Linked DNA regions of Homo sapiens: region 2 is linked to region 1. The links come from fine-mapping of genetic effects on gene expression. Tissue or cell type: whole blood. Region 1 holds a variant in brackets; the other region holds the start of a gene. All regions are shown on one strand. Distances are between the middles of the regions.

Region 1 (2,682 bases):
TCCCAACCAAGGGTGATTTTTTTACCCCCTTGGGGAGCATCTGGCAATATCTACAGGGATTTTTGGCTGTCACGACTTGGGATGGGAGTGCTACTACTGGCATCTAGTGCAGTGCGCAGGGCAGAGATGATGCTGCACATCTTACAATGCACAGGACAGCTCCCACACAATGAGGAACTGTCCAGCCCCAAATGTCAGTAGTGCAGAAGTGTATAAACCCTGTATTTTAAAGCATGAGCAAAGTGATAATATGTGCTGGGATACTGACTGCGGCATTGTCTGTAATATCAAAACAAACATCAACGTCTCCCAATAGAGGATATAATGGAATACTATTCATCTAAGCCCCTGTCACTAGGAAGGAGAAGGGGAATTTGAATGTATTTCCCAAGAAGTAATGACATTATACTAATGAGGTTTTCAACTACCACTTTTGCCTAAAGGTGTTTATATGCCTCTGAAATGGCTGGAGCATGCTTTCTCATTCAGAAAGTTCACATGGCCTGACAGGGAGGCAAACATGGCCACAGCCAGTGTCTGCAGAGCATACTGGGGGCAAATGAGACTCTCCAGAAAACAGGAACATAAATGCTTAAGGCTTCAAAATGGCACTCTGTGTAAATGCATTAGTAAAAACTGAGACTCTCACAGTAATTCTGAATCAGGACAGTTGGTATCCATGCACAGATGGCAGGGGCATGAGCCACGTGGGCCCTCAGAGACCCAGCCAGAACCATCCCCTGGCCACTAAAGGCTGCACTGGTTCTCCACCCAGGATGCTTATTTGCATCTCTGGGCCTCAGCCCAGATGAAATAAATTAGAATCTCTGCAGGTACAATCTGGATTTGTTCTTAACACACTCGAGCGATTCTGATGTGGAGCCAGTTGAGACTACTGGGTTAAGGGTTCTTACCAGTTAACTGAGAAAGGACAACTGAAACTGAGAAGACAACCATCTCTGAGCACAAATTATCCATACGTAAAAGGCATCTAGTTCTCTAAAAAAAGGAGGGGGATCACATTCATAAGAGAGGTGGTGAGGCTCTAGAACGACATCCCAGGGCATGAAAGCTGGTGGAAGCCCTTCAGTACTGGAGAGCACTCAGGTCAGACCGGGCTGGCTGTCACCTAGAAAAAGCGGATTTGCTTGGGACACATGAAGCAAGGGAACTGGTGCTATGGTTGGCAGGTATGGGGTGCAAATTCTAGCTCAATACTAAGAATCCAACCCTCACACTTTG[G/C]TGGTGGGAATGTAAGACAGTGCAGCTCGGAGAATGGTTAAACAAAGTTACCATGTACCTCGCAATTCTACTCCTAAGTACATACCCAAGAGAAAGACAAACTGTCTACACCAAAAAAATTGCACATGAATGCTTACAATGGCATTATTCAGAACAGCCAAAAGACGGAAACAACCAAAATGTCCATCAACTGATGACTGGATAAACAAAATGTGGTGTATCCATACAATGGAACCTTTGGCCATAAAAATGAAGAAATGATACACGCTATAACATGGATGAATCTTCAAAACATCATACTAAGTGAATGAAACCCATTGAAAAGACCACATATTGATTCCACTTATACAAAATAGGCAAATCTACACAGACAGAAAGTAGATTGTTGGTTACTTTAGAGCTGGCGAGAGTGGGGAGATACAAGAGTGATAGCTAAAACGTTTCTTTCTGAGGTGACAAAAATGTTCTAAAACTGACTCTGTTGATGACTATACACATCTGTGAACATACTTTCATTAGGTGAATTGTATCTCAATAAAGCTATTTTTAAAAGAATCTAAGATTAAGTTGTTCAAAAAGAATAGGCTGCATAGGGAGACCTTCACCTACAACTGCATTCTGCAGAGTGGCAGATACATTATGGTGATTAGACTGGATGTCTTTTAAAAATCCTTCCTGAAACAAGTTTTTTGTCCTTACGTCTTTATTTAAAATTGCAGAATGTCAGGGAAGCAGTAAAGCATGATGGCCAAACATACAGGGAATCAGACAAGCTACATTCAAAACCAGCCTCCCCTACCTTCTGGCTGTCTGACCTCAAAAAAGTCACATTCCATGCTTCAGTTTTCTCATCTGTAAATTGGGAATAATACATATCCTGTGGTATTGTTGTCAAGACTGAACATGATGCCTATCAAGCTATCAGTGTAGTGCTTGGCACAAAATCCTCTATAAATAGAAGCTTCTACTACTAATCATCACCATAAAGCTGGAGGCAATAATAATAAAATGATGACAAACCACAACTTTAGTAGTTAATCTTTCAGAATTCTAGCCCAATGTCTTCATTTTATGGCTCAAATAACCGAGCCTCGGAAGGGTTTGATGATGGGGACAAGTTACGGAATGGCTGGTAACAGAGGCAGGACTAACACGCCCATCTGATGTCCAGTCGAGTGCACTTCTTGCTTCCCAGGCTGACTCCTCACTTGCTTTAGGGTGGATTACAATTCAGAAAAAAGCATCCATTTCTCCTAGTTTACTGTCAGAACATACATAGGCCCACCAAATGCCCCAACTGTAATGTAAACAAACACGCACACACAGGCATGAGGAAATGTGTGCTACGCTGAATTTAACGTCGAGTGTATCGGGACTGGTAGAGTGTAAGAAATTTGCTTGAATAGGAAGCTGTTGCTTAGTGGGGAAACTGCATGTTTC
Region 2 (2,682 bases), 64 kb before region 1:
TGGGTCCTCTGCTCCCCACTGAAAACCAAGACGGCCTGGAAACCCAGGAGAAGCTCAGTGAAGCAGTGCCTCTAGTCTCCCACCTACCAGGGCGGCCTCTGGGGAGTGAGAGAGCAAGCCCTGCAGAGCCCACGCCTGGTCAGGAAGGGCTCTGGGGCCACCAGGCACAGAGAGGAGCAGAAGTCCATCTGTCTGGCAGTCACAGTCTTTCCTAGCATTTTACATGTTCAGGCCAGTGGCATGCTAGTTTCCAGTTTTAGAGAAAAACTGCAGGGAAGAATCCTGCCTGGTCCAGAAATCACCCATGTACCTGGAAAGTGGGCTCCAATTCCTCTATACCTTGGTTTTCCTGTTTGTAAAATGAGAGCTTCCCCCAATAGAGCCTTGTATGTTGTAAAAATTTATTCGAGAAAAAAAAAAGCATATGCATGTTCTGTGATTCAGCCCAGTCCACTGCATCAACTACTAACTGAGCACCGACGGAGTGCCCGGCACGGGGCTCCACCACCCTCTCAGCCATCAGGGATTTCAAACCCGGGCACCACGCCAGACAGAGCATGGCCATTGCTCCAGCAGAGGCACAAATGAGGAAGAGATTCTGATAGGGAGGTCACGGAAGGCCGACCAGAGGTGGAGGCAAGAACATGCGTGCAGGGCGGCCCTCTCTTCAGCCTCCTGCAGTTGGAGGACTCACACCCCGGCACTGTCAGGGCTGCCTACGCCCCGCGCTGCCCTCTTCCCAGCAGGCTCCCACCCTAGGCTCTCAAGCCAGCCACAGGGACTTGCATCCCCCAGAAAGCAATGCCACTCAGCCTCTTACCCCATCCCCGCACTTACCCCCATCTTATGCCACTTACCCCATCCCCGCATGCGGAAGGGAAGGAAGCGGCTGCGTTCTCCTGTGGAGCTTGGACATGTGCACATAAAGGGGCCGGCGCAGCTCCGGACAGTGGCCTCTGAGTCCAGCCTCCTCTTCCCTAGGGGAGCAGCTGTAGGAACAGTGACTTCCAATTGCCTTGGGAGCCTCCAGGGGCCCCCAGACGCTCACCTTTTCCTAGATGCTAGACTTGCGGGGAGCAAATGGACCCTCCGGCGATGAGTAGGGCTTCTAGAGCTAATTCTCTGTCTCTCTCTCGCGCGCGCGCGCATACACACACACACACACGCGCGCGCGCGCGCGCGCGCGCACACACACACACACACACCCTGGCTGATTGTACAGTCAATCTTTCAAAGTGCAATTTGTCTAGGAAAAGCCAATGTGAGGCCCGTGTGCGCCCCGACCAATGGCGGCGCGGCTCCGGCGGCTCAGCCAGTCTCCGGCCTGTATTCTAATGGGCCGTATCTTTATCAGGGAAATGTTCCTTCTCTGAACTTAAAACTTCTCATGGAGGGTCCCCCGACTCAGAGGCAGAAAGGGGGTCTGAGCTGAGGCTTAGGGGGCCACCCTGTCCGGCCAGGGCAAGGAGAGAGGCCAGGAGCCCTGGGGAGGCCTCCCACCTGCCCCGAGCACCTGACTTCCGAGCAGCTGATCGGGTGCCGGTTCCTGGGCCAGGGCCTGGCCCATGCCTTAGGTGGGAGGCAGTCAGGAGCTCGGAGACGGTCCTAAGCCTCCAGGCCTGCCATGAGATTTGGGGCTAGAGAGTGGGCTCTTGGGTTTTAGGGGCCTGGAGAAGCCTTCCCTGTCCTGACTGGGAGATCATGGAGTCCAACCTGCAGGGGACGTTCCTGCTGAACAACACGCCGCTGGCTCAGTTTCCGGAGATGAAGGCCCCGGTGTGCCAGTACTCTGTGCAGAACTCCTTCTACAAGCTCAGCCCCCCAGGGCTGGGCCCCCAGCTGGCCGCCGGAACCCCCCACGGGATCACGGACATCCTGAGCAGGCCCGTGGCTGCGCCGAACAACAGCCTCCTCTCCGGCTACCCCCACGTGGCAGGCTTTGGGGGGCTCAGCTCGCAGGGGGTCTACTACAGCCCCCAGGTAGGGAATTTTTCCAAGGCTGGGAACGAGTACCCGACCCGGACCCGGAACTGCTGGGCGGACACGGGCCAAGACTGGCGAGGCGGGCGGCAGTGCAGCAACAGTGAGTACGGGTCCTCCCCAGCCACCTCCCGGCACCCGCCAGGCCCCGGGGGGCAGAGGACGAGGAGGGGCCTCCTCCCGGGCACCCTGCACCTCCGCCCTCTCCCCCAGTCGCCATTAACCCCTGGACTCGTAGCCTCAGCTCAGTGCAGGCTGAGTTCCACCCTCTCCTCCTTCCCATCCAGCAGTGCTTGGACACAGGTGTCTGAGCCACCCCCCTCACATGCCAGCCACCTCAGCTGCCCTCCTAGGGCCCCCGGCAGTTCCAGATGTAGAGAAGGCCCCACAGCCCACGCCTGCCCTGCACGAGGTCCAGTAGGCAGCCCAGCTGGCTTCTGCAGCCCAGGGCCCATGCAACCACTTCTTCACCCAAAGCAGGCAAATGCTACCCCCGTGAGGAAAATGTCCTAGCTCACCTTCCCAGAGAGCCCTGGCATCACTCAAGGGTGCAGAACGCACCCTGACCCCATCCGGGTCCAGCCTTTGAGCCAGGGGGCTGTTGCCCACCACATCCTCGGGTTTCTAGCAACAGCAGCCACACCAAGTAGCCTGTCTCGGGGAGTTGCTGCTGAGTCCAGCTGAACTTGGCCTTGGCTGTGG

Evidence for each region. PIP is the estimated chance that this variant, and not a neighbour inherited with it, causes the effect.
Region 2: it holds the start of NKX6-3, and the variant in region 1 is fine-mapped to the expression of NKX6-3 in whole blood (TOPMed, PIP above 0.99).

What each region holds. Positions count from the first base shown.
Region 1 is chr8:41,585,066-41,587,747 of GRCh38, reverse strand. All of the region lies in intron 1 of GPAT4 (glycerol-3-phosphate acyltransferase 4), which reads right to left. Among named protein-coding and RNA genes, the nearest start is that of GPAT4-AS1, 8.0 kb to the right of the region's middle. RefSeq lists enhancers at 587-686, 797-936. The variant G/C (reference allele first, on the strand shown) is at 1,243.
Region 2 is chr8:41,649,512-41,652,193 of GRCh38, reverse strand. It overlaps NKX6-3 (NK6 homeobox 3), which reads left to right and starts at 1,377. Exons shown (of 3, transcript NM_001364841.2): 1 at 1,377-2,083. The coding sequence starts at 1,702.